Regions from separate parts of the Homo sapiens genome. Here region 2 is linked to region 1. The links come from fine-mapping of genetic effects on gene expression. A gene starts in region 1. The other region holds a variant in brackets. All regions are shown on one strand. Distances are from middle to middle.

Region 1 (15,139 bases):
ATGTATTATGGACCAATGTTTGTGTTTCCTCAAAACTCACATGCTGAAGCCCTACACCTCAGGATGCCTGTATTTGAAGATGGACCTCTAAGGAAGTAGTTAAGGTTACATGAGGTCATAAGGGTGGGGCCCTAGTCCCATGGGATTGGTGACCTCATAAAAAGGGGAGAGACACTGGAGCTCTTTCTCACTCTGTGCACAGAGGAAAGGCCATGTGCATCCTCAGTGAGAAGGAAGCCATCTGCAAGCCAGGAAGAGAGCCCTCACCAGAAACCAATTTGCTGACACCTTGATGACGGATTTCTAGCCACCACAGCAGTTAAAAAATAAGTCTCTGTTATTGAAGCCTCCAAGTGTATGGTATTTAGTTATGGCAGATAGGTTATGTGTTCTGTTCAAAATCAGGCAGCAGGTAAACAGCAAATAGACATAACAGAGTTTCTCATTTTTCAGAGGCGACTGAGTAAACTGGACCATCATATCCCATTTCATGTAGGCTACACTTGAAAAGCAATAAGAGGTCAAGAAAAGCAGCTGTCTTCAGTCACTGCTCTGCAAACAGTATCACGCTGTAAACTCCTTGGTAGCCCCCAGTGTGTGTAAGGTGCCATGCTACCACCTCCCAGTATCAAAGGCAGGGAGCAGGGCTCCTAGACAAGCCAGGAGCCACGAGGCTGCAGGCAAAGCTTTAGGTTTGTTTCTGAATAAACCTATTCGTCAAACATCTCCACTCAACTTGATTCCCAGGCAGCTCTGAAATTTTTATGGAGGACATCCCAAGAACAAAAGAGACAGTGTTCCTTACCATCCCCTCCAAACGTCTGAGGAAGGGGTTCTTAAGCTCTGGGAGAGGGTCAAGGGGGTGCCACTCTGGCCATGGCCACAGGAGGTGGAACTTATGAGACCCTGCAGCCGAAGGCAGTCAGATGATGATAACCACCCCATCCCTCCCCACCTTATGCCCTCTTAGTGGGTGTGCTTATTTTCTACTCTCTCAGAGTGGAACACTTGGAGAGCGGTCTCTGCAGTCTAGCGCAGCAGCACCCAAATACAAAGGCTCTCTTCAAACCACCTCTGAGCTGCAGAGCCCACACTCAGGCAGTCTATCCATGCACTCCCAGCAGATGCTCAGTAAGTGACTGTAGCCTCTTCTGCTTGGGTTACCATAAAAGCCTCCCACAGGTAGAGCAACGAGGAGTGTGTGGAGAGCAGTCTGTACCCACACAGGCAATAAAGGGTTGCATTGTCCACAGAGGACATTAAAACAATAATACTGGCCAAAAATTGATTGCTTTTTATTTCCATATGCGTCTGTGAGTAGACAAAAAACACAAACTTCTTCCTCTGCTCTCACACCACAACAATCAGCACAGATTTCTGTGATAAAATCTTTGGGGATTCCTCCCCACCAACATGCAAGCAATTGCAGCAGATACCAGCCAGTGTCCTCCAATTCCATTCTGATGCTGTCTACCTGGAGACAGCATCAGATCCCACAGGTTGAGGGCTCAGCCCCACAAGACTGCCCCCAACTTCCAGTGCCAGTCACAAGCCCCAGGTTGTTTTGCCTGTGCTTCTGAGGGACTGGTTTTATACACTGGAGTTGCCATGACCCCCTCCGTGGGTTTGCTTAATTTGCTAGAGTGGCTCACAGAACTCAGGAAACTTACTTACATTTATGGGTTTATTACAAAGGATAGTGATGAAGAGATGTACAGGGCAAGGTATGGAGAAGAGACACGGAGCTTCTATGCCCTATTGGGGTGTGCCACCTTCTAGGAACCTCAATGTGTTCAGCTATCCAGAAGCTCTTTGAAACCAGTCCTTTTTGGAGTTTTTATGGAGGCTTCATTACATAGGCATGATTGATTTAACCACTGGCCATTGATGATTGCCTTGACCTTCAGCCCCTCACCCCTTGTGGGGGGCAGGATTGAAAGTTCCAGCCCTATAATCCTGCCTTGGTCTTTTCAGTGACCAGCCACTGTCCTGAAGCTATCCAGGGGCTGCCAGCCATCATTAAACTCATTGACATACAAAAAGAAATCACTCTGGAGATCCCTATGCCAGGAAACAGGATGAAGACCAAATATATATTCCGCAATATCACTAGCAATTATAAGCAATGTCAATGATAAAATATTTCTCCTAGGCGAGCCACCCGGGCATGTCTCCCTGCAACTGGCTATATCAGACACTGCTCCCACTGGGTGCCCTCAATGCTAGTCTGTCGCACTCCCATCTTGCTTCAGCCGGAGGCATCATTCCTAAATGTGACCTGAGCATGTCACTTTGATCTAAAACTCCTGCTTGCTCCCATGGCCTTCAGAATGAATCCCACTTCTAAGCAGCTTCATGACTCTTCGCAATCTTGAGTCCAACTTATTTTTCTAGCCTTTCCTGCACCCTTTCTCTCACTCCATATATCCCAAGCTCCTAGCTCCTTGAACACAGCATCCTATTCTTGACCCCCATACCTTTGTTCAAGCCATTTCTTTTATTAAGAATTTTATTTTCAACAATGAAAATTCCAAGTCATCTTCCAAGGCCCTGCTGAAGTGTTAATTCCCCTGGGAAACCCTCCCTGACCCCCTCCAGTGCCAAAGAAGAATTTGTTGTTCTTCCTCACTTACCCAGACCACCTGTTACCTGCCTTCACAGTATCACTTACTGCAGAGTCCACCTGATCTATTCACTGCAGGAAGAGTCCAATCAACAAGAGTGAGGTCTGGTATAAAGACAGTGACTTTTGGCCAGGCGTGGTGGCTTGCGCCTGCAATCCTAGCACTTTGGGAGGCCAAGGCAGGTGGATCACCCGAGGTCAGAGTTCAAGACCAACCTGGCCAACATGGTGAAAGCCCGTCTCTACTAAAAATACAAAAAAAAAAAAAAAATAGCCAGGCATGATGGCAGGCACCTGTAATCCCAGCTACTCAGGAGGCTTAGGCAGGAGAATCACTTGAACCCAGGAGGTGGAGGTTGCAGTGAGCCAAGGTTGTGCCATTGCATTCCAGCCTGGGCAACAAGAGCGAAACTCCGTCAAAAAAAAAAAAAAAAAAAAAAAACAGCGACTTTTTATTCCATAGCTACCTTAGGGGAAGAAGTACAGGCTTCCTGCCTTAAGGGCACCACTTTGCTTTTGGAACAGAAAGAAGGTTCTTTTTGAAGGGGGCCTAGCATGAATGACATGCAGGAGAGGAAACCAGCAGGTCGGGGTACACATATTGGCTTCGGTGCCTTATCTATCAGACAGCTGAGTTGATGTCTTTGTGGGCAGGACTAGGTTGTTCAAGGTAGCCAAGACTCTCCAGGTGGGAGAGAGTTTCCTAACAAGCAACTTTGGGTTGGAGGTTGACTGTTGTCCCATGAGGAAGTCTCCTGGTGGGAGAGTTCCACTCTGGAACTTCTAAGCGCATAGTTAGATGAAATAGCCCTATAGGGAGTGTCTGCTGAAGGGAAGGTAAAGGTTAGAATTACATTTATAAAGGGCTAAGTAGGAAGTGGGAACAGGGAGAAATGGAGGAAAAAAAAGGAAAGAAAAAAATAATTTAAAAAAAATCATTCTTGGCCAGGTGTGGTGGCTCAAGCCCGTAATCCCAGCACTTTGGGAGGCTGAGGCGGGCGGATCACAAGGTCAGGAGATCGAGACCATCCTGGCTAACACGGTGAAACCCCGTCTCTACTAAAAATACAAAAAATTAGCCAGGCGCAGTGGCGGGTGCCTGTAGTCCCAGCTACTCGGGAGGCTGAGGCAGGAGAATGGTGTGAACCCGGGAGGCAGAGCTTGCAGTGAGCAGAGATCGCGCCACTGCACTCCAGCCTGGGCGACAGAGCAAGACTCTGTCTCAAAAAAAAAAAAAAAAAATCATTCTCTGTTTCTTAGAAAAATGGGAGTACTCAGTTTGCATTTATTAGCTTCCCTCCTATATAGACTCCAAGAATGCTAAATTCCCAGTCCCAACAGTTGAACCCAATACATTGGTTAGGCTACATTTTACTAGTTAACAGAGTTGTTGTGCCTTAGGTCAGTCCTCAAAACCAGCTTGCTTTTCAGTCCCTGGTCCCTTGGGTCAGACCGGGCACCTTTCCTTTCTGTCCGTATGATTCTCACTCCATGAAATCAGCTGGGTAAGAGGGCTTAGAACCACTTTTGGGTCTTGTTCTCTCACCCTCCTGAAAGTCAGCTGTAAAAGAGCTTGTCACAGATTTTGGCTCCAAGGTCGATGAGAGTAGGAGACCCCACTTTGGCCTGTAGTCCCAGTTGCGGGTTTCAACTCAGTCTTTTACTGGAGAGCCCTGAATTGCAGGTAGCTGGGTCCTGCTTTAGATACTAATAAAGTGGTACCTTGCTGCCTGCATTGGTCTTTACTGTCAGAACCCACTGGTGATAAGGCATGAACAGCAGGGCAGGATCTGAGCCCTCACATAAGCCCTGAAAGTCTGCCCTAAATCCCCAAGCCCCCGCTTCTACCATTTACCACCATTGTACTTCAGTCAGCTGTTTACTCGTATCTGCCATCTAGACATGACCTTCTTAGAAGATTAAAGTTTTGCTCACCTTTAATTCTCTAGTGCCTCACACATTATAGGCTTAATATCAATGTCTATTTAAAAAAATAAGTGGGTACAAGACACGACGTAAGTTTCTTCTTCTGCACCCTACCGGTTCCCAACCCAGCTGTCACCCCTCACTACTGCCTTTGTGCTCTCAGAACCCCAATTTTGTTCAGGTTTCTGGAAGCCAACACTTCAAAGAAGACAGGCTGGCTGGGCATGGTGGCTCACACCTGTAATCCCAGCACTTTGGGAGGCCAAAGTGGGAGGACTGCTTGAGCCCAGGAGTTTCAGACCAACCTGGGAAACATAGCAAGACCCTGTCTCTACAAAAAATAAAAATAAAAATTTATAGCCAGACATGGTGGGTGTGCCTGTAGTCCCAGCTATTCAGGAGGCCGAGGTGAGAGGAGCCCTTGGGCCTGAGACATCAAGGCTACAGAGAGTCATGATCACGCCACTGCACTCCAGCCTGGGTGACAGAGGAAGACCCTGTCTAAAAAAAAAAAAAAAATTTAATTTAAAAAAGAAGGAGACGAAGAAGGAGAAGGAGAAGAAGAAGAAGACAAGTCCCTCCCAGCCTAGGGATGACTCTAAGTTAATCATGGTAATCCTAGCCGTTGGTCTATTCTGGTTAGGACAGCCCCGCCCTAACCACAGCCTAAGGAAAGGCTCATAGGAGACAGCTGGGGAAGTTTTCCTCATCCTTAGGCTCAACCCTTCCTGCCTTCACACACTGTTGTGTGAGGACATGATGCTTGGAACTGCTGCTGCCATCTGTGAGCATGAGGCAAAAAGCCAAGCAAGTCCTAAGAACAGACTTCTTCAAGCCCTAACATCATTGGCTATGGCAGACCCACTACAAAAAATGCTTCCAATGCTCCACCTGCCCTTGGCAATGTGACCTTGAAGCTCCTCCCACGAAGAGGCAGAGTCTATTTCCTCATTACTGAGTCTTAGTCAACAGCACTGCAGCAGAAGTGACTGCACCAACTCCAAATCTCGTCTCAAGAGGGATACTCCAGGCTGCCCTGCTAGAGACATGGGAGCAACATGGGCAGGATACTGAGGCTCCCTGGCCAACAGCCACACAACCCCCAGCAGCACCACCTGATCAACCTAGAGATGACCACAGATGCATGAGGGATCACAGATGCATGAGGAAGCACAGGTGAGACCAGAAGAGCTGCCCAGCTGAGCCCAGCCAAAATTGCTGACCTGCTTGAATTGGGAGCTATAAAGTAATGGTGGTGTTTCAAACTTTTCGGTTTTTAATTGGTTAGCTATGTCACAATAGCTAACTGATGCATTACGAATCCTGAAGCTGTCCTTCCTCAAGACTCCATTTCATATGAGATAAAAAATATTCTCTTTTTTTAATGCCACTGTTACATGCAGCCTATAGTTCCCTGATATTGTGCTCTGAGGAATAAAAACGATGAGACAGGGCCCTGCCTTCAAGAAAATGGCAGCCCAACTACACTTAAGACGTATTTTCAACTAGGTTGTTGACCCCCCTGAGGTGAGGGTTTGGTGGCACATGTATCTCTAGAAAGGACTCTTACAGTCTAAAAATGTACAGCAACACAAGGTAACCTCTGCTGAGTGCAAAAGGAGTGGTCCAGTCCACATAAAGACTTCATGAAGAGCTGGATATGAGCTAGGTGGTCTTTGAAGGAGATTTAGGATTTCGAGTCATGAGGAGAGAGGGAGGGTTGAGAGAGGCAGGACCCTCTCTGGGTCTAGAAAGATGGATATTCCATAGGGATTTGTTCTGGAGACAGGTGAGTGACTAGGAATTGAATTCTGATGTGGTGATTTAGGGCATGAAGCACATAACAAGGACAAAACAGTGTCTCAATGCAGGCCTGCAAATGTTCATTCTATGAGGTGAAGAATGAACAGAGGGGCCAGAGGTACAAGCCAATGTCCTCTGCAGCCACCCTCAAAAGAGTATCAAAAAGCGTATTGTCTCAGGAGTATCAGGCCACCGCCCCATAACCTCAGATGTGACCAGGCCTGAAGGATCTCCTTCTACCTGTGCGTCCCTGCACCTCTCACTTTATCTTACCCAGTGGGCGCACTGCCGCTGGGGTGGGGTCACAGAGGAGGCCTTGAATCAATGCTGGGTTGTAGGTTGAACAAACTTCACAAGACTAGAAAATAAGTAATAGAGAGGTACTTGTTTTTTTCACATTGCCAGAGTCTCACATTTCCCTCTCTGTCTGAGTTTTCCCAAGCCCACAAGGGATGGTCGTGGGCTGACTGATGACACCCAGGCTCTCGGGGTCTGAAGAAAAGCAAAAGAAAGGCCCCTGTTCTCTGGTCCCAACCACAAACATGAGGGCACTAAATAATTCCACAACTACACCATCTTCAGAATCAGAGCACTAGGAAGGAGAGAGCTATTACTCATTTTGACCAGGAAGCCTTGTTTTATTTAGCAATGAGTATTTGCTAAGCGTATCTTCTACTCAATAGAACACCCTCACCATGTTTCTGTGAGACCAGAGTGATCCCCATTTTATACTGGAGGAACACAAGGTGTATGAGAAATGTGCCCAAGATCTCAATACTAGTGACTCGGAGAGCCAGGGTTTGAGCCCAGATCAGTCTGATACTGAGACCTGTGCTCTCTCTGTATATAGTATGCAAGAACTATCATTTCTTCAAAGTCTGAGCTGAATGGAAGCTCTCATAAGAGATTATTTTCAGAAGCTCCGTGTCTTAGCCAAGGGAGTAAGTGAATTAACACACTGGACTCCAAAATCCAGCTCTGTTATAAAGTAGTCATAGTAGCCACGTGGCCTTGGGCCAATCAAGTCATCACTCAGGACCCCAATTCTTTTTGGCATTTACAAAAGGAGAAAGCGGAGCTGGAGGATGGATCCGACCCCTTCCAGCTCCCATGGCTGGGAGGTTTTCCATCTCTCCCATAGAGAGGCTAGCCCAGACTGAACCAGAACGTTTTTTTCCTGACTAACGGTTTCTAGGAAAGAGGCTCATGCTGGCTGGCTCTCAGGCTCAACCCTGGTCCAATCCACTGTCAGCAGGACGGGGTCAAGCAGGTACTAACTTGGCTGGCTGCTTGTGGGTGATAACGAGTTATTGTGAAGGACTCTTGGGCCCTCTGATAGCTGCCTGACAATGCCCAACCAGAACAGTAAAGATCCACCAAGCCAGCCGCTCCGGGCCACATGCAACTTCAAGGACCACTTTGTGCATCTGCACCAAGGCTCCCTCTGTTTTGAGAAAGGAGAGCTCGTCGGTCCCATATTCCTCCGCAGTCCTTGCAAATCCTCTCACCTGGCAGGAAAGCCACTTAGGGTTGTTGTATAAGAGGAGGAGGCACAGCGGAGACCAGCTTTGTTGGCAGAGAGCTTACCTTTCCTGAAAGTCAGCGCTGAAAGATCAAAAGTCACTGAGGACCCTGCTGACTCCCCCACACCAACTCACAAAACCAACAACCCGTGGTGGGCAGGGCCTGAGAGAGGAAAGTGAACGATATCCTGCAAAAGTCTGCTAGGGGGTGGCTTCGTCTCAGTTGCAAGGCTGCTGAATAGGTAGGTAGGTAAAGGCCATGGGGAGAATCAGCATTTGGAACTCTTCCCTGGGTGCAGCGCCCCTGCCCGCATTGCCTGCAAGGCAAACCCCGCCTTCTCCCGCAGCCTCCCACTCCGCCCAAGCAGCCCAGGGACAGAGGCTGCAGGATTCTGACACAGGAAGTCTACAGTCACTGGGAGCCTCTCCAAGATACAGCCTGTGTGAAGGAAAAGGTCTGGACAAGGAGAGGAACAGTAAAGAGAAACAAAAGTCCTCGGTTTGAATGAGGAGAGATTTTGAGCCCGCAGCGGGTTGCGGGGTGGAGGATGGCGGAAGGGGCAGATGCCGTTACCGGGTTCTGTTTCTCTTTCGCTGGCCACCTTGTTAAGCTCCCATTGGCCAGGTGTCCGGAGTGGGACTCACCACTGCAGGGGGCTCCAGCCCCACACAGCCGCCTCCCAGGAAGGACTCAGGTGGGCTTTCAGGTTATCCGCGGTGGGATGCAGGGGTGAAGGAAGCTTTGGTGGTGGATGTGAGAATTTGGGATGGGGGTGTGGAACTTTACTGGCTCCTGCCATGCAGCGTGCACAGTGCTTTCTGCAGGATGGCATCGAAGGGGCTGGAGCTGGGGGGCAGCACGTCTCTGTCCTCAGACCACGGTGGAGGATGTGGACTGTCCAGGCTCCAAGCTGTCCATCCCTCAGTGCCATGACCTAACCGTTAAGTGGGATGGAGCATGGGAGGGGAACGCAACTGCACCTTTCAGAGAGAGGCCCTCTGAGCAGGAAGAGTGGCTGCAGTAGAAAAGATGTGGCTGAGAAGGGGAAGAAAGAGCCTCGCGAGCATCAGCACTAGGAGAGGCAATTGATTTCATCCTGTGAGTCTCAGGGGAGTGGAGGCTGCCCCTTCCAAAAGAACTGGCAGGACTGGCCATGAGCCAAGTAGGGAACAGCTGCTGCTGACTGAGGGAGAAGCTGTGCAGCCTCGGGCAATTCAGTCAACCTCTCTCGGCCAAGGACAATATAATAATGCCTGCTTTACTGACCTTAGTGAATTGTTACGATGTTCAATGGTGAAAGAGAGTTGTAAAATGTGAAGTGCAATTAAATGTATAGGTGCGATATTATCAGCAGAACTTCTTGGGCTGGAGGTACCCAACTATGGCTGCACACAAGAACCTCTAGAGACTTTTTTTTTTTTAAATCCTGAACTTGGAAACCACCCTAGATCAGTTATTCAAATTAGGGCAGGCAGTGAGCAGAAGGACAGGAAGTGGTACTTTTTTCAAAAGAATCTGGTGATGCTGATATCCTATGAAGGTTGAGACCTGCTACCTAAGACTTCCCCAAAATCCATGAAGGTGATCACTCAGAGCACATGTTTTTTAAAAAGGCATATTCTCAGGCTTCTCCCAGATCTTCTGAATCAAAATTTCAAGGGGTCCTGGCAACCTCTATATTTAGCGAGCAATAAGAGCAATGTGGACACGTTATGCCAGTGAAAAGTTTGTCGATTAGCTCCTTTTCTACTGGATAATCATATCCAGCAATGCTTCTGGACAGCACAGGCAAATCAGCTCAAGGAGGGGAAGCACCCTCCTCAGACGGTAAGTACAGACATGCTTTGGGGGGATGGGGTTACAGTAGACAGCCAAATCCCATCCTATTCCTGCTCCACCGGGGTGAAACTCCAATTATAAAATGACACATTTCCCAGCCAACGTGCCTGGGAACCTTAAGATAAAAAGGAAACGATGATGAGTTATCTATAACTAACAGCATCAATTATGAGTGCTTTATTGTGTCAATAGATTGTTCAGGCTTTCTTGCTTCACACACTGCGGACTCTGTTCCATTCATAAAATTATACAAACACTTGCATATCCATGCACATGCACTCACAAACACAGAGACCCCAAGCTCGTCAAACACACAAATGGGAGGACGAAGAGGATGACAGGAGCCGGTGAACTCTTATCAGGCAACTGCATTACTCCGTTCTAGCATTATTTGCAGGATTCCATGCTACATTAGCGATGTTCCCAGGTAACAGGACCCCAGGGATTCTTCATTTTAGCTCTTTCATCCCACAGGGGCAACACTAGTTTAGCAGATAAGAGCACGACTCTGGAGCCAGACTGCCCAGGCTGAAATCCTACCACCCCACTTACTGGCTGTGTGTGACTCTGGGCAAGCTACTTCTGTGAAATGGAGATAATAACGGGGCAACTGGGACGATTAAATGCGCTGGTACACATAAGCCCTTAGAGACATGCCTGGCAAACAAGATGCTATGTGAGTGTCCGCTGCTATCAGTGATTGTTGTTTCTGTTGTTGTTTTACTATAGGTGAGAAAGGTGATACCTAGAAAATTAATTGCTCACTTTGTTTACATCTCTTGACTCTTTTAGGAGTATAGCCAAGGAAGGAGTCATAAATGTGAACAAATATCTACACTACAAGTGTTCGTTGTAGCACCGTTCATTAGAAGCAACCTGAACGTCCAATAGGAAGTGGGTTACCAAAAGAATGCTGCATCTCCATGACGGCTATGTAGTAATTGCATGAGAAAACTAGAGACATAATATGAAGCTTTTCAGATGAAATGCTGAATGATCTCTATAGATATACAGATACAGACATAGACAAAGTTAGTCTGGGGGAGAAATACAACCAAGTTCCAACACTGAGTGTCTCTATAGAGATACAGATACAGACATAGACAAAGTTAGTCTGGGGGAGAAATACAACCGAGTTCCAACACTGAGTGTCTCTATAGAGATACAGATACAGACATAGACAAAGTTAGTCTGGGGGAGAAATACAACCGAGTTCCAACACTGAGTGTCTCTGGTGGGGGGGTTATGGGATTTTTATTTTCTCCCTTATACTTTTCTAAATTGGGGTAATTTTCGATGATGAGCAGATATTCCTTTTAGAGTCTGAAAATAAAGCGTTCAATTGAAGCAACTTACTCAAGGTCAAACAGCACATTAGGAGCCCACACAGGCTTCCTATCCCTGTCCAGGGACTGTGAGGCTTCGTGAGGCTGCACTAAGAGTAGGAAGGAAAGCTGAGAGGGATGAGAATGATGAACACACACCGAAAAGCAGCAGGACCTTGGTGGAGCTGTGCAGGGCTAAGCCCCAGCTCGGAAGCTTCCCAGGGCAGAGCTGTGAGGGCAGAGCTAGACACTTTTCCATCCCAGAGCCACTTTGCGGCACAGTGAGGTGACCTAGGCACTACAATCGAATGCCTGCCCTTGGGGCTGCTCACTGCTGTCTCCCAGAAATGGAAGAAGCCAGCTTCTACTTTGTCTAAGGATACCAGAGAGTAACACCAACCTTTCTTTCCTTTGTCCTTTCTACAGACTTCTTCCTCTAGTGTGGAATCTGAGACCCAGGGAATACTGGTTCGCATCCCTGCTGGGCTGCACTCCCCTGCTTCTCCTTAATATAGAAATGTCTTTTCTTGCCCAGCATTTTCCCCATCATAATGCCAAGGTGCTTGAAACGGCCAAAACCAAGGAATGTTTATTTTGCAACACCGAAATAAAGAAGGATCTGGAATCACTTAATAACTAGGATAGGCTTCATCTAAGAAAAATAGAAAGGAAGGAGGGAAGGAGGAGGGAAGGGCGAGAGAAAGGAAGGAAGGAGGGAAGGAAGGAAGGAGGAAGGAAGGAAGGAAGGAAGGAGGGAAGGAAGGAAGGAAGGAGGGAAGGAAGGAAAGAAGGAGGGAAGGAAAGAACGAGGGAGAGAGGGAGGGAGGAAAAGAAGGAAAGAAGGAGGAAGGAGGGAAGAGAGAGGGGACGATGGAGGGGAGGAGGGAGGAAAAGACGTAGGGAAGGAAGCAAAGAGAGGGAGGAGGGAGGAGAGGAGGAAAGGAAGGAGGGAGGAAGGAATAGAGGCAGAAAGGAAGAAGAAGGAAGACGTTTATCATTGCTTGACAGTAGATAAAAACTATTGTCTCTCTTTCAAAACTTTGCTACAACCTACTCAGTATATTTTTAAATGTAAGTTCTGATCTTTGTAAAATAATAGACTGGAGTATATGAGCTCTGAAATTCAGTGATTCTACATAAAGTTGAAAACCTAGTAACTCCAACTCTCTTTTTCAAAGATCACTCCAGTGGCAAAAGCCAAGCAATAAAGTCTGTCAAGTTTTCAGGCAGCCAGCTGCACATCTGATTAATACACTTGGGTATCCGCAGAATTTTCAAGCAGAAACCCAGTCGTTGAATCCAATGACCTCACTTTACAGTGAAGACTCTGGTGGGAGAACAATACTAATGGCTACCATTTGCTGAGGGCCAGGCAGGTGACATGTGTAGGGTCACACAGCAGGTTAGTGACAGACCCAGAATTGGATGCAATCCTCACCCACCCCACAGTCCACTTCTTCTGACTTTTAGTGGCTTTAATACCAGAAACTTTTCCTCATGGCTCAAGATGTACAGAAAAGGAATCGGTACAAAGGCAACAACAGGACAAGAGCAATTCCCTCCTTTCTGCTTTTGCCTCTGAGCACAGAAGGGACACCATGGAAGAAGGAATTTCAGCCTGGACCAGTTGGTGAGGAGCAGACAGCAAACCTCAGGCCTTGCTAGATGAGCAGAGGAGGGTCAGAGGTAAGAGCCCTCAGCAGCACCAAAACAAAACAAAACAAAACAAACAAACAAAAAACACCTAGAAGAAAACAGCTTTCCAGGAGACTGAAATCCAAGCACCAGAGGAACCAGGTCCAACTGTGGTGTGTCAGCACCAAAAATGCCTTGGGAGAAAGGACAAATGTCACACTTGAAAACAGTGTTTAGGAAGATGGAAAAGAATACTGAGAAAACCTGGTTACATACAACTCACTGCTGGTATTTGCATCTTTCTCAGATTGTGAGTAAGATTTCATAAATAGGATAGTGAGTAAAGGTTATCATCAATGTTTTCATCAAAAGGTTTTAGTTAGAAAAGTGATCGTAAAAAAATCCATGTTACAATTTTTGATTTGGTTAACAACGTGCATAGGAATTGGCTGTTACAGTGTAAGGCAAAAGCCATGCAGACGACCTCATTTGCCTGGCAGAGTGCATCAGAGCTGTGGACATTTCCTAGCAAGGTAGCTCTAAACCTAACAAATAAGACCAACTCTTACTGTTATTTTCTCAAAGACTTCTATTTAAGAAGACTTATAAGGACTATAGGGAAGAGGATGTGTTTTATCACATTACTCAGTGCCTTATCAAAACCACTTCCGTTTCTGAACAACTCAAGAGGGGTGTGAAGAACTTTAAGAAGGTTGATAAGAAGCCACAGAATGGTCCAACTGAAAAAACCTTTCATGGCTGAGGGTCCATGCACTCAAATCCATTGCAACAAGCTTCAGATCTCTTCGAGTTTTCCAAAATGTATTTGTTGGATGAGTTTTGGGGGTATGTGAGCAGACATTACTATAAAAGGGGGATGGAGATTCTGTGGTAAAAATTTTTAAAAATGTAAGAAGTTGAAAAACACTGGTTTAAAGAAGTGAAATAGTTTTACTGCTGCAGGACTTCTCAGAGCCTTTAATTTCATGTTCAGATGCATTGTGCATCTCCAAGAGGCAGCATTTCTGAAACATAGTGCCTGGGGATTCTTTCTCCATGGAAAGTTGCGTAGGACTGATGTTCTGCAGATCACATTTGAGGAACTCTGGCATGAGTTATTCTAGGTAACATGGTCACTTGAGTATCCATTTCAGCAGAAGACAAAACAGGAGGAAGGAAGTTTAAAGTGCAGCAGGAGATGTGTAACTGAGAAATGAGGAAAACATCCTGACAAAGGGTGCTCAAACACAAGTAGCTTGAAGGAGTCTATATTATGGATTCTCTTTCTCTGGGCATTTTTCAGAATAAGCCTGGAATAATCTAGACATTTTTCTAATACACAGCAAGGCAATTAATTCCATGACTTTTAGAATTCTCTTCCTGCTCAATTATTTCATGTCATCTGTCCTTATTCTCTATTGATATATTAAGTGAGTTCAGCTGACTGGCTTGCAAATTAAAGACATCCCTGAAATGTTGAAGGTAAAGCCAATACATCCTCTGTAAGTTGAGTCTGTTTTCCACAGATTGGTATTATAATTGCAAAGAAAAGTGTTGACCTTACGCATCGGGGAGGAAGCATCCTACCTACACCCTTGTGCATTTCTTCCCGTTCATTCTCCCGCTTACGGCAGCCCACAGGTCAGCCAAGTGAATAGCTGAGTCATGAGATGCTTCCACACTCAGTCATTCAACCTCTCTGTGGATTCCCAAGTTTTCTGGAAGTTCTCGCTGATCTCGGGGATTCTCAATGGGTAAGTCACTTCATTGCTCATGTTCTTTCTTTAGGAATTTAACAAAATCCCTGGATATTCTCTGCTGCTGGCTTTTTTAGCAAGGAAACAGTTTCACTCTAAGAAGGTAGTAAGCCCCTTTACATGAGTCGCCTCTGTTATGACCAAGTATTTGATGATTTAATACCTGAATCATGGTCACTATTTGATCAGGAAGTCCAAATCTACAAAACAAGAGAAACTATTACATAGATGGACATATTTCCCAAAAGACTGATTTATGAGAGCTTTGAGTGGTTTTAACTGTATCTAACGTTTGGACAAGAGACCTTGCTTATGCCTCACTACTCTGTCAAAGTGGGCAAATAAGAAACAGACCATGAAATAATAACTTTTGCTGAATGCTCGCCACATACCAGGCCTGTTAGCATTACCTGCTCTAATTCCACCCATTCACTGGCCACCATGAGGGATGTCTATTAATGGCCCAGTTTTACAGAGGAGAAAACCAAGGCTCAGTGAGGTTCTGAACTCTCCCCGGGTCACACAGGCAGACACCAGTGGGGAACAGCACTGGGAGCTGACTTCCTCAGGGTGGACAGATATCACCTTCTGCCTACATTGTTCACAGATAGACCAAGAGGCTCAGAACCATGTTCTCATGTCTCCTGTCCTGCCTCACCTGACACAGCTACAGGTGTGGGAAAGGCAGTGCTGCCCACCTGCAAATG
Region 2 (14,920 bases), 30 kb after region 1:
GGATGCATCTGGAATTTCTGCTTATTGGGTGACCAAAAAAAGGGAGAAGAGGGTGAGTGGAAAAGGGGTATGTAAGAGTGTTGATTGAAAAAATAATAGCTACATTTACTGGGCATTGAATATGTGCCAGCCACATTCTAGGTGCTTTCCCAGAAAGATGTCCTCTCCTTGTAGGCCATGTTACAACAAAGACCCCTTTGGCAGTACTGGAGTAGGGCAAAGTTTGTTGTTAGGGACCAGCTGACTCTTCCCTAACTCTCCAGCAAGAAGGTGATAAGAATGGTTTTCCATCCATTTCTGTCTTTCTTCACGAGACCAGACAAGTTGGGGTCTGGTAGAGGAAGACTCAACTGATCTTTTCAGACTGACACTTCCAGGTAGGGTTGACATTTGCTTCTCTGTGCCTCAGTTTCCTCTTTTCTGGCTGGCTGTAGCCAAAATGAATTGGCTAACAACTACAAAGTGTTTTTGTGTAGCTTCTGGTGCATATTAGATCATTAGTATGCATTCATTGAGGTTAATGATGAGAATGACACATAAAGGTGCTCTCAAACCACAGGATGCATCTGAGAGTTCTTTGTATTGCACGGAGTATTTTAAAACCACAGTGGTTCTCAGCAGCATTCACTCTCAGAGAGTTGGAGGAAGGAGAGAACCAAGGCTCCTGGATGTGTCGGGAAGGGATCAGGTGTTGAGTGGGTAAGAAATGTGCTAGTATTAGAACTCACTGCATGCTCATTCTCCAGTCTTGCTCCTCACCAGTTGAGCCAGGCAACAGCCTCTGCTCCCTTTCTGTGCTTGCACAGCTGATTTCTGGCACCAACGCCCTGTGGGCTTTTTTGATCCCCCAGGATAGAAATCAAAAGAGATCACAGCATACAGTAGCAAAGAGAAAGATTTTATGAAAGCTTATGGACATAAGGGACCAAACACCAAGAAAGGAAGTGGGTTGCTCTCCAAAGTCAAGGTGTGGGTTCCCTTTGTGGAGGTCTGCAGTAAGGGGAAGTCAGGGCATGTAGAGGTGAGGTTTTTCGGGCACATGTACGGTGGCTTAAGATGCTGCTTCATACAACATATGTCTCATTAGCATCTTAAATCTCCACCTGTGGGCATGATTTTTAGTACTAAAATAAGGAAAAGTTCATGATGAGGTGAAAGTTAAGCCTAGCTAGGCACGTAGGGCCTCAGAAAGGTCCTTAGTTCTCTAAAGCAAGGGGTTAATTAATTTGTGGTTAATAGCTTCTTGGGCCTTTGATGCTGACTGGCTGGGAGTTACAGCTTGAGTAAAGGGCTTTTGTTCTTTTTTCTCCAAACCACATCACAACAGGAAAGCAGCCAGCTTGCCCATCTCATGCTTGCCTGTCTCATTTCCACTCCTTTCTCTCACCTTGCATGTTTCCGTGAAGGGAGAGAAAGCAAGTACATGGAGTCATCCAGCGGAGTTTTCTCACTTACAGACTATGTAATTAAGCCATTTAGACTCCACACAAAAGTTGCTCTGTTTAAAAAATCTTTTTGAAAGAAAAGAAAAAAAAGGAAACCAACAGCAAATACACTATAGAAGATACTCTTTACCCCCATCCAGTTATCTGTCACTTTACCCTTATCCAGTTATCTGTCATTATTTTCTGAGTCATAAATTGACTAACCCCTGATTCTTTTTGTTTTTGTTTTCAAATTCATAATGAATGATTCATTTGCAGGTTTGTTTTCATCATTGCCATTTTTATTCACGAGACTGTCAACTAGGTCAGTAATTCTTCAAAACCAATCCTGGCAAAGCATGGGAAGGAACCTTCGTTCTGCAGAAGCGTACACACCCTGATAAGGTGTCAAGAACCTCCGTTTGAGTACCCCTCGGGTTAAGCCTGACTGGGCTGCCGGCCACCCTTCAGGCAGAGCTGATGTTCTGTGATGACCTTCACATCAAGCATGAGGTCGTGCCCCAAGAAGGGTTTCACTGTGCCCAGGGAGGTTCCCCTGAGAAGGACAAGCCATTGGCAAATTCATGAATCAGAGTTCTGTTTTTAGTTCTTTTGTGAAATAGACTCATTTCTTAGCTTAAGAAAAACCCTATGCCTAGATCATTCCCCCCAAGCGTATGTTAAGGATGAGTACAATCACACCTTCAGAAATGCCAGTTCCCAGGTGAAGGAAGACACAGCTCCATCCATAAACACTGCCAAGTGGCTTCCAATGGCAGGGGATTTTTCCCCAGCATTCACCAAGCACCAATTTCATGCCAGCACAGATTTTGTTGTTATTTTTTGTTGTTGTATCCAGATTCAGATGTTTGCCATGGTCATAGCAATCATTCATTTATTTAAAAAGTATATATTGAGCAGCTACTGAGTGCCAGCATGGTGCCAGGTGCTGAGGATTTAGCAGTGATCTATACAAAATATCTGCTTTGATAAGCATACATTTTCATGTAATAAATTACATTATAGACAGAAAATTTTAACAGTAGACAATAAGGAAAATAATTCCATATTGCAGTAAATGCCTTGAGGAGGATAAATGGGATGCCATGTCAGAAATGAACTTGGGGACTCAACTTTGCAAGGGTAGCTGGAAAAGTTCCCTCTGAAGAGGTAGTATTTCAACTGACAATCCAAAGAGGAGAATGGAGCCTGGCACGGTGGCTCATGCCTGTAATCCCAGCACTTTGGGAGGCTGAGGCAGGTGGATCACCTGAGGTTAGGAGTTCAAGACCAGTCTGACCAACATGGCAAAACTCTGTCTCTACTAAAAATGCAAAAATTATCTGGGCATGGTGGAGGGCACGTGTAGTCCCAGCTACTTGGGAGGTTGAGGCAGGAGGATCGCTTTAACCTGGGAGGTGGAGGTTGCAGTGAGCCGAGATTGTACCACTGCACTCCAGCCTGGGTGACAGAGGGAGATTCTGTCTCAAAAATAGATAAGAGAATGGGGCCACAGTGCCAAATGCAGGGAAGAGCATTCCAGACTGACAAGTGCAAAAGCCCTGAGCTAGAAAGGTCATGGGTGTTCAAGGTCAAAAAGAAGGCCGTGCGCTGGGAGGAGAATGGGCAAGGGAAAGGGAGGTGCAAGATAAGATTGAAGAATTAGCAAGGGTACCATCTTATAGGGTGAGGTGTTCAGGTTTTATCTTAAGGGCGGTATGAAGCCAATGATGGTTTTCAAGCAGAGGAGAGACGTGATGTGATTTACTTAGAGGCTGGGAGGGGAATGAATTATGAAGAGGTAGAAGAAGAAATAGAAAGACCAGGAAATTGCAGTCGTCTGGGGAAAAGATGATGGTGACTTGGGCCAGAGAAAGGTAGAGTCAGTAGAGATAGAGTGGAGAGGAGGTGAGGAGAACTGAGGAGGTATGTTTAGATGATAGAATCAGCAGGAATTAGTCATCAATAAAACATGAGAAATAAGCAGCCAATGCCAAGCTCAAGCAACTAGGCAGGTAGGTGTCGCCCTTTACTGAGAAAGGGAAGACAAGGGGTTAAACAAGTTGGGATGCGTCAAGACCTCACCTTTAGATGTTTTACATTGGAGAGGGAAATTATACATGCAAATTAAGACATCAAGGAGGCAGTTATTTATTTAGGTCTGGAATATGAAAAAGAAACTTACGATTTATGAATTTAAGACATCTAGAAATATATACATTCATGGCACCAAGGTCTTCTGCAGAAACAGAATATGGACAACGAGGAGAAATGACCAGGACCAAGTCCTTCACAGCAGTCTTCAATCTACCGGTCAAGGTCAGGAGGAAGGGCAGCCAGCATAGGAGGCTGAGGGGTTGTAGGTGAAGTCAAAGGAAAGCCAAGAGATGGAGAGCTCCTGGAAACCAACAACCAGGACTAGACCCCAGGGGCCCCATCCTCCTGGGCCCACGCTGGCCTTCCAGTGGAACACATGATCTGCAACAGGTCAGGAGTACGTGGGGGGCATCCATGGGAAGAACCACCTAAGAATGGACGTATGTGCCCACAAGATGAGCACAGATAATGTGAAGCATTGTGTGATAACCATTTATATTCTGACCTCTGCCCTAGGTTCTAAAATGTACCTATTCCAGGTATATAAATGACATAAATGATCTGTCTTCCAGGCTTCTTTACATTTTTATTTTGCTGTGTGTGTGTGTGTGTGTGTGTGCACTTGTCATCATTCTGGTAATACGATCCCTGAAGTTTTCCTCTTTCTCTGTGTAACCTCTGAAAATGGTTCTCCTCATGGTCCTGTCACCCACAGGCCCCTGCTCTGAGGACAGGGTGGCGAGTCGTCAGCTCCCTTACCTCTTACTGAGAGAACACAACACTTGTGCACAAGCACGGAACACCCTCCCTAGAATGACCCACCCCACTCTTGAGCTTTCCACTGTGGAATCCAAACCACTCAGAGCCAGTGAGAAGCAGGGGTGATGAGTCTGAGCCCGTGTCCCTCCTCTCACCATCTCACTCTGGGCAAGGCTCTGCCCTCGAGCTTTGGTTCTTCAGCGTGTTCCAAGTGGAAGCTCCTCTGTCCAAACACAGCGTTCTGCCTGGCCCAACTCCCTTCTCTGGTCCCCTCATTCACCCCTTTCCCCAGGGTCTGGGTCATGTTTACTCCTTCTCTTAACCTTCTCCTACTTTTTCTGCTGGAGAGAGAAGACAGCATTGAATCCTGGGGAAGAAGGGGAGAAAAATGGATGACCGGGTAATTCTATACTTTGCAGTCAATTTTTGCTGTTTTCCTTTTGTTCCCCTCCTTCTACACACACACACACACACACACACACACACACCAAAAATTTGGTCATCTGAGAGTTACATTAAAAAGAAGTCAGATATCTTGAACTTCGAGGGTTAATTTCCTGCAGTAGCACCCACTGGTTCCACAAACTCATTGATGTTCCCTGCCAACACTTGATAGCACAACGCTTTGACCTGAAGTTCCCTTCTATTCATTTCGTCTCTGGATGCACTGTGGCCATTTCCCTCCTCCTGGGCTTCCCCTGTGGCCAAGTGGATGGAGTCAGGGGGACAAATGAAAACACATGTGCTATACAAAAGCACTATTTATAATTAGCTGCTTAGTCCAATTTTTAATGAGGACGATGATGTCAGTTACAAAGTAGTGATGGTGATGATGATGTTCCATAATTCAGTAGAGAAAAATCTAACAGCTTTCGCTTGGGTGAAGCTGTATATTAGAAAAGAAATGCATTAGACATCTGTGCCACACCAATCAACAGCCTCAGGAAATTACTATCCATGCCAAGAAATAAATCTATAACGAACTCCTTATCCTTTCGGGGAGGATCCCAAGAGAGCTTGTTAGTATCCTAAGTTTGCAGCCTACATCTTCATCCAATTCTCCTCCTGTGATAGTCATTAATGCTGTTTTCCAAATGTCTCCAGCTCTCTACTTTTCAGGAACATGGAGAATTTTACTGTCTCACTCACTTGTGGCTGTGTGGTACCAGGCAAGTAGTTCTGGACAGTGAGTTATAAGCAGAAGTGGTATGTGTCACTTCTGAACCAAAATATTTAATTCCTCATGGGAAAGCCCCCAGAGCTTTCTTCACGCCAGCCACAATGACCAGCTTTGTTCAAGATGGTGGCTGCTCTGTCAGAGTGAGCTGCATTACAGGGTAAGGTGGCAGGAAGCTTGGCCCCCAGCCGAAGCAATAGTAGCATAAGTGAGAAACAAACCCTTATTGCTCTAATCCTCTGGTATTCAGGGATTGATTTCTTCCCATAGCAGAATCAAGTCTACCCAAACTGAAGTAAGAAGCTGCCAAAAGTAAAAAGTTAAAACCTGTGACATGGCCAGGCATGGTGGCTCACACCTGTAATCCCAGCACTTTGGGAGGCCGTGGTGGGCAGATCACAAGGTCAAGAGATCGAGACTATCCCAGCCAACATGGTGAAACCCAATTTCTAAAAATACAAAAATTAGCTGGGTGTGGTGGTACACACTTGTTGTCCCAGCTACACAGGAGGCTAAGGCAGGAGAATCGCTTGAACCTGGGAGGCGGAGGTTGCAGTGAGCTGAGATTGCACCACGGCACTCCAGCCTGGCAACAGAGTGAGACTCCGTCTCAAAAAAATAAATAAATAAAATTTTAAAAATTAAAAAAATACTTGTGACATTGGTTCTGTGGCCAGATGACAGGTATTGAAGAAATTTTATAGGAGGCCATTGCAGGCAATCCATGTTACAAATGGAAAAATATTCTGAAAACTGTCATCTGTGATAACTTAGAAAGCAGATTATATCCCTAAAATCCTGCATATCTAGGAAGATGGTTGAAAAACAGCTTGTTATATTGTATGGTGGCCACTGCTGGCTGCATCTGACAATGTAGTGCAAGATATTGATGAGTTCAGAAAAGATTTGGCCAGAAAGCAGAGATGAAATGGACAGGAGAGAGTCCAGAAATGTGGGGATTTTCAGTGTAGACAGAGACAGCTGCTTCTCATTCCCCAAAGAAGTAAACAAAACTTAAAAGACCTTTATACAAGAAAGACTGATGAGTGCTTCAGCTCATGCCATGGAACAAATCAAGCACAGGGCAGTCATGTCCATTGTCAGTTCCTCTGAATGGAATAAGTCATTTAGGGCAAAAGTTTAATTGAAGTTATGGCTTCAAAAAATCATTCAAACTGGGCAAACTGGCTCAAGTAAGAGCGAGAGAAAAAACAAGACTAAAGCTGTAACATCCCACAAATAATATATATACCCAAATTATTGCTGTTAGGTTCAAGTTGAGAAGAACCATGGCTCCCCCAGGCAAAATACACTTACCTACTCCCTAAGGAAGATAACCCCAAAGTCCTACCCAGTCCTGGTATCAAGCTGAAATGCTAGGTTCTCTAGCAGTGCGTAGTAGTTTTTATATTAAGGAGTGACATGTGCTAGTCTCTACATCAGTTTTGAATATGGATTTCTGCAATTCAGAGACTTAAAAACCCAAAAGACAAATTATCTGCCTCTATCCCATAGCACGACATACAATGGCTCCTTTAGAATAGGATAACAACTGTAACCATAGGTGTGGTTATTGGCTATCAGTACATAGATCTGCCCGAAACACATAGGAAAAAGCCTAAGAAGATTTTCAGACAGTCATCCTGCCAAAGGAACCATGACCTGAACGAAACCATTCACGACTTTTCAAAATGTAATGTACCGTTGGGCCCCTAAATTATCATGGACAAGAAGCCGGCCAAGAAAGCTGCTCAATATCATCTGCAATTCCCATCTCTGATAGGAGCAAGGAGGGCAACAGAAAGAAGACCCTCCAGAGGGACAATCCATAAGCAGAGAACGGTGGGCTGGGATCTACTCCCAGGCAGCTAAGTGAGGGTCGAATTGTGTTTCACAGGATTTCAGAGTCGTTATGGACCAGTGACTGCTGTGCTTCCCTAGTCTTCCCCCTTTCTGAATGAGAATATTGATTGCAGTTGTCCTACTTCAAATGAATCTTTTCTTGTCTTGTGGGAAAGAAACGATTACTTATCTTTTTGGAGCCTAAGTCTCAGAAAGGAAAGGATCCACATTCACACCTGATGTGGAGACTAGAACATGCCGCTCCCTAAGGTGAAAACTGCCCTGTTACACACCACAAGAGACCCTAGCATTTCAGCTTGATACCAGGACTGGGTAGGACTTTTAGGCTGTCTTCCTTAGGCAGTAAGTAAGTGGATTTTGCCTGGGGGAGACAAACATTTTGTGACCCTAATGGCAGGCAATGGTAGTCATTGCTGCTATTTGACAAACATTTCCAGCTTGTTCACCTCCTGGGTACATGGTAAGATTGTGTCTTTCTTGGTTTTCATGTGATTGAGTGAGAGTCATGTGACTAGTTCTAGCTGATAAGTTGTGCCATGTGTCATATCTGGCCTGCAGCACTTAATTGCCAATGCTCTCTTCCTCTGCCATAATGATCCATAGCACTTGAGAAGGTAGCAACCCCATCAGCCTACAACCCAGATTGAAAGACATAGACCAGAACCCTAGGAATGCCAGGGATGGCTATGTAGTCTGAGCAGTAAATAGTCCTTTGCTATAATCCACTAAGCTTTGTGGGCTGTTTGTTACTGCAGCATAACCCTGTCTCTCCTGACCAATATGCCTACTTGCATTCCTGCTTGGAAGATAAATACAATACAGAGATCATTAATATTCTATTTTCTATGCCTAGAAGAAGAGAATTGAACATGGATCATGAAATTAATTTCAAAAGCCTAACTTTGGCCAACTTTTTCATTCTTACTATTGCTTACTTCTCCTCCTACCACAGCTTTCTACAGAGATCTTCACTTTGTTTATATTAAACTGGTCTGAATTTTTGCTCTTCCTTGTCCATTTTCTGACCTAACTCTACCACTGAAATGATAGCAACCTGTTGTCTAACTCTGGTGTCCTATCTGCATCTCCAATGGGGTCATGGACAGTAGCTAAGTCTTTATGATAAAATGTTGTAACTTTCTTCTGTTTACTAACTTTTCAATAAATATTGACTAAAGATAGTAATAGCTAATGATAAGCATTTTTTGAATGCATACTGCATTCCAAGCACTTTGCTAAGAGGTATGAGGTAGAAGCTTTTCCTAGCCTCCTTTTAAAAATGAGAAAACAGAAGGACAGGAAGTTTAATTTACCAGCTCACAGAGCTAGTGGGTACCTGAGCAGGCTTCAAATGCAGCCATTCTACAAAAAAAAAAAAAA[T/AT]TGTTTTAAGTTATCCAGGCATGGTGGCACATGCCTGTAGTCCCACCCTGGGAAACTGAGGCAGGAGGATGACTTGAACCGAGGAGTTGGAGGCTGCAGTGGGGCTATGATCATGCCACTATACCCTAGCCTGGGTGACACGGTGAGACCCTTCAAAAAATGCGCTCAGTCTTGAGTCCAGAGCCCATGTGGGGAGCTCTCTTTCTTCATGTTCCCAAACTGTGTTCTACACAATTCTAGTTCTCACCATGTTGATAGATATTTACACAGACAAGGCACTCCACCCTGTAGCCTTGTGGTTAGGATTCCAAACTGCCGTGATCTGGGTTCCACTCCCGATCAAAGAACCAGCCACCTAGAGATGTAAATTCTTTAACTCAGAAGAAAAAGAAATTAGTTTGATAAAAAATTGATTTGATATTTATAAACACCCACCCCAATGAAGGGAGTTTAGGAATCTTACACTTTGTCTCAGAGAGCCTCACAATAGACATTAGAATAGTAAAGCCTCTGATACATCCCTTAACATTATGTAACCCAATGTTTCCCAGATGTATTTAACCACAAAACCCTATTCTCACCAAGCCTCACATTCGGAGGCACTTGTGTATTATAGAACATAAGAACATAAGATCATAGAAATCAAGCACTAAGGAGGGATGGTGAACCTCATCTCAAACAACTGCATGATTTTGCTGATGCCAGAATCAGAGTATAAAGTGAGCAAATGACTTTTCCATAGTCTTAATGGCTACAATGACTGAAATCTAGATCTCTTAATTCCCTGTTCAGCAGGATTACTCTACCCCAAAAGGTCATAAATAGCAAATTCTCCCAGGACAAAGCGGCAGGTCAGAGAGAATCACAAGTTTCTCATAGACTCCAAGGATCCTGAGGACAAAGACCCTGTTATTATACCTTCTCCCCCTGGCCTAGCACAATGTCCTTCACAAAGCAGGTGCTCGATAAATGTAAGTTAATGAGTAACAATGAGGGACAGAAGGAGGATCAAGCAACCAAGAAGAAGAGACAAAGGACCAGGTGGCTTATGTGCAGAGAGCACTTGTTACTAAGCAGGTGATATAAGGAATGACACAGGTCCAAAAGGATCTCTCTTCAGCTGCAACACCATCCCCTCTCAAGGCACTGATGGAGTAGAAGCAAATTCTATGCAGCTGCGCATGTGTGCATGAGAGAGAGAGAGGGGAGAGAAAGAGAGAGAAAGAGAGGGAGAAAGAGGGAGAGACAGAATGTGTGTGTGTGTATGTGTGTAGAAGGGAGGAGTGGGTTGATGGAAGGAGAGCTGGACAAGACACACAAAGCCACGTTCAATTGCAGGAATTGCCCCAAATAGCAGGCACAAAGGGAAGGAATACCAAATGCCAGTCCATGGAAGAACAAAAAAGCCATGACTTTCAGGGCATGTTCTGTAAAAATGAGGAAAATATTTTCCTGCCTCTTCTACCACTGGAAGGAAGCATAAGTTCTTTGAATATGATCTCCAAGAGATTGATCTTAAGCCTTTGGCACAGTTAACGAAATTGTAGTTTTAAAATTCATATCTATTGCTTATTTTGGTAGATGTGGAATCCATGGGGTAAAAAGGTATTTTTAGTTCTGAAAACAAACTAAAGGACTTTATGGTTAAGAATGGTCAAGACTAGGATATGGTTCGTGATGGAGACCTTAAGGCAAAGGAAGTTAAATTGCTTTGCATCAAAAAAAATGATTTTCAGTTTTCTCCCAGAGTCAGACATTTGGAAAAGCCTATGGTTGAAAAAGAGAAGAAATTAGAGAAGACTAAATATCTGTTGAATAGGACAGGTCCCCGAAAGAAGATGGGAAGGCAAGGTCTCAAAGACATTACTTGTGAGGCACTATTCCTGGTGGGATGCAGAGACTGGAACAGGGATGTCTGATGTCCACTTTTAGGCTGTTCTCTATTCGGGGCTCAAGTTCCCCTTCCAGTCTGGGAGAAGGAAAGGAAATTGCTTCAGGAAAGGAGGAAAGGGGAGGTTAGGGAAGATCCTAACAGAAAAGGAAGACCCCGCTAGGTCCACTGGCTCACCTTTCCCCCTTTGATGCAATTAGATGGGAGCAGTGTGGTGAGCTGGACAGGCTGGTTGCCTGTTTCCACCCGAAGCATTCATGTCACCCCTGTGAGCACATTCCAGGCAGGTAGCCGCTGCTCCTTGCCTAGTGAGTCTATGTTGTATGTATTTGGGCCTCAAAGATTCTGTTTCCCTTCCTGAGGAGCAAAGGGTGTGATTTTAATGTTCTGGTTCTCCTGCTTTACAGATGTAATGAAATAGCTGGGGCTAAATAATGCAAAACTCCTGGTCCACTGATGGTAACGTCTCTCTTTTTTTAACTACAGTCTCTAATTCACTCAAAGGAACAAATTATGTTTTATGGCCTTTTATAAAATATTCATCCCCTCCTCCTCCAGCACTCTCAGTGGTTCAGGAAGCCTGGAAATGGCCCTGTGTAAGGAGGATCTCATTTCCTCCCAGACACAAATTACAGAGGCTGCCAGACTCCTGATAACAGAGAGGGGTGATGCTGCTGCGATGGGCTGAGAGCACGGACTCCACATAGACCTGCTGGGACGTTTGGGGATTGGGGCCAGCAGCGATGTGAGGCAAGTGAGCAAGTGAAGGGGACCTGTCTTGCCCTTCTTTGGAGCATGTCCATTGCATCCATTTCTTTTTGTAGGTGAAAGCCCGGCCCAAGCCCTTCACAGTCCACCTTCTCCCACGCATCCTCCTCTCTGATATTTGGGTGTTGTTTCCAGCCAAACCCAGGTTTAGGAAACAGTGCAGTAGCCAGAGTCCAGGGAAGGGGAGGATCAGTTTGTGGAGGGTGGGGTGGGAGAGGTTTCAGGGAGAAGAGGGTGAGGTGATGGCTGTTGAAGAGAAGGGAGATTCTCAAATGTACTCCCACTTGCTGTTCATTTACATGTCCCATCCAAATGACCAAGGGACACAGGAATGTAACAACATGAATAATGATCTTCCTGTTTGGGTGTTTTACAGTTTACAAGGAATGTCCACATCTGGAGCCTTGAACACTAACGCTGGAGTCAAAAGCCTGACTTGCGAGCCTGGCCAGGCTGCTGATTCACCTGTGTCACCTCGTTTTCCTGGGCCTCAGTTTCCCCTCTTGCACAGAGAGGGGCTTAGACCAGAGGACTGAGGTCCAATGTAAGTTTTAATCCTGGTTCTATAAGCCTCAGAGCCTGGATGTGTGCTGCCAATTCTAGGCTTATACCATTTCTGAGGGTCTCTGGGCATCTGCCTACTGATTGGTAGAAAGAACCACATTTTACGAAGAACAACAGTGGGAGCAACTCCCTGATGACAGCAGTTTTCCCCTAATTCCTGTCTGGCCTGATACTGCAACAGCAGACATCACAACCAGGCTCTTCCTCCGGGCAGGAGTGGGCTTTATGCACCCCTCCCCGCTGAGCCGGGCCTGATTCTCAGAGGGGACGCGGGGGAGGAAAAGTGCTACCAGCTGCGTTCTACACAGCACAGAGGCATAGAGAGGGAGGACGCAAACACACTCATCATTTCGGTGCTATTTCCCCTCATTTCCCTCTATTCTAAAGTATTCCTGTACCATTCTATATTGGGAAGTGCCATTTCTGAGGATAAGATGAAGGATGGCAGAAGCTGAAGGATCTTATACTAACAGCCAAAATATGGAGAGGTAAAAATTACAGTGGAGGACATTTCCAACTGATTTGTCATCGAAAAATCTCAAAGTACTCTGTATCTACCATTTATTCCCAGAACCCATTAATCAGAAAAGCCTGTATCAATTCATGCAGGCCTTTTATATCATCCTAGTATGCAGGTAAGAATCTGTGAGCCCTGAGCACCTCAGGCTTTATTAACTGCAAAATACACGGAATTCTCCACCCATTTCAGAGATGACTTGAGCAATATTTATGCATGTGGAGAGAATAAAAAGAAGGCTCCTTGAGAGGACTGCCTCTCCTACCCTCACTCTTTCTTGTCATAATTGCCTTCTTTCTTTTGACCATACATACGGCAGACTTGAGAACAATCTGTTCATTTATTTGATAAATACGTATTAAGCATCTTCTGTGCACCAGGTACAGTGTTAGGCCCTGGGTATAGAGTGGGGAACAAAAGAGTCATGGCCTCCGCCCTCAAGGACTGTCTATCTAGTCATACGTACACACACACACACATACATACATTCATATCACTCCTTCCACGTTGTGATGGTTAATACCAAGTGTCAACTTGATTGGACTGAAAGATGGAAAGTATTGATCCTGGGTGTGTCTGTAAGGATGTTGCCAAGGGACATTAACATTTGAGTCAGTAGACTAGGAAAGGCAGACCCACCCTCAATCTGGGCGGGCACCATCCAATCAGCTGCCAGCGCAGCTAGAATATAAAGCAGGCAGAAAAAAAATGTGAAAAGACTAGAGTGGCTTAGCCTCCCAGCCTACATCTTTCTTCCATACTGGATGCTTCCTGCCCTCGAATATTGGACTCCAAGTTCTTTAGCTTTGGGACTCGGACTGGCTTCCTTGTTCCTCAGCTTGCAGACAGCCTATTGTGGAAACTTGTGATCATGTAAGTTAATACTACTTAATAAACTCTCATATCTATCTATATATCCTATATATATATAAAATAGGATATATATATATAAAATAGGATATATATCCTATTATTTCTGTCCCTCTAGAGAACTCTAAGTGATATGCAGGTACATATATATATGGGGAGAGAGAGAGAGAGAGACAGTCCCCAAACAGTCCCCAGCTGTTTCAGTGTTCAGCCATTCAATCCATCCCAGCTGAGGATTCAGACATCATAAAGCGATACAGAACGTTCCCACTATGACTTAATTCCTGAATCACAGATTTGTGAATATAATAATAATAAATTGTTGTTTTAAGCCACTATGTGTTGGGTATGTTGTTATGCGGCAATAGATAACTGGTCCCCTCAGAGAAGTCAAGAACTTGCAGAAAGTCACTCAAATAATAAGTTACGGAGTGGAGATTCAAACCCAGCTGAGCAGTTATAATGAGCAGCCTCCCAGGGAGTGAATACAATGTGAGAGCTCAGAGCAGCCCAATGCTTATCCTACCCATCTGCTTTCCTGAATGCAGAACTAACCTTCTGTGGCTTCCTTTTTCTTTAAACACACACACACACACACAAATGCACACACACATACATGCGCACACACATACATGTGCAAGCATATACACACACATATTCATGCAGATGTACATGGGCATTGTATTACACTATCTCCTCACCCGATGGGCATTCTTACAGGAAAAGGATGTGCATGCAGCCTCTCCCTTGGGGGAGAAGGCATGTGCTTGTCAACTCAAAGGGTCAGCAGACCTTCAGGAGGCCAGGTCTGGCGCATGTAGGCCATGCTATAGCCGTGCTCTGAAGCCCAGAGAATCCAACATAAGGTTCCAATTCGAATTCCATTTCCATGAAAAAACTTCCAGCCTAATCCTCTGGTCCTTCCCAAAGCCAAGAAGGGGCCTTGCTCTAGGGAAGTGCCCCACATCCCCACAAGACAGGTTCTTACTCCCTGGTCAGAAACAGGGAGACCAGGAATGGATAAGTGAGTGCAAGTGGAGGGCTGACCCAATGCTGTCCAGAAATTCTGCAGTTGGCAGTCCCAAATTTGTCAGCTCAGGGATAGGCAGAGGAAGGAGCAAAGCCACATTTTGGGCACAGGAAAGGGAAGTTGCCATTTTTAACCCCTTCTGTGTGTCCAGATTCCATTTCCCACAGCTGCTTAGGGGAAGGTCAAACCACGTGAGCATCCTGGATTCCCTTCACGCCATGGATAGACTGGGAGGGAGCAAAGGGGACTTGAGCCCCAGATTGTAAAAGGAAACATAAAGAGGAGTGTTGAGTAATTTATAAGGTCAGGGACAATGTCATATTCATCACAACAGCCCCATTACCTAACTTGGGTGCCAGGTAGATAATAGATAATCTATGTTTGTTGAATTAATGGAAAAAATGATCCCCATACAACCACCTTGATGTCAAGGTCCTGAAATATTTCAGGAAGTGGCCGGATTGCTCCCAGAATCATGACCATCATCTTCTGAGGAAGAGTGGACACTAAAAGAGTGGGGCTCTCTTGCCCATTGGTAGAGCTCAAGCTGCTGGAAGATTATGTGGAAAGAGCATAGGCT

Direction of the effects. Alleles are on the strand shown, and positions count from the first base shown. SD is a standard deviation of normalised expression in the study named.
As copies of T replace AT in region 2, the expression in T cells of the gene that starts at base 8,229 in region 1 goes down (moderate effect, 0.61 SD a copy in GENCORD).

Evidence for each region. PIP is the estimated chance that this variant, and not a neighbour inherited with it, causes the effect.
Region 2: its variant is the best candidate, but not a certain one, in a credible set for the expression of KCNA6-AS1 in T cells (GENCORD, PIP 0.50).

What each region holds. Positions count from the first base shown.
Region 1 is chr12:4,823,861-4,838,999 of GRCh38, reverse strand. It overlaps KCNA6-AS1 (KCNA6 antisense RNA 1), which reads left to right and starts at 8,229. Exons shown (of 3, transcript NR_199077.1): 1 at 8,229-8,570. It also overlaps a transcript of KCNA6 not described here. RefSeq lists enhancers at 8,250-8,751, 9,181-9,340, 9,401-9,590, 14,088-15,139 and a silencer at 13,291-13,491.
Region 2 is chr12:4,793,652-4,808,571 of GRCh38, reverse strand. It overlaps KCNA6-AS1 (KCNA6 antisense RNA 1), which reads left to right. Exons shown (of 3, transcript NR_199077.1): 3 at 1,704-4,087. Among named protein-coding and RNA genes, the nearest start is that of KCNA6, 8.2 kb to the left of the region's middle. The variant T/AT (reference allele first, on the strand shown) is at 8,701.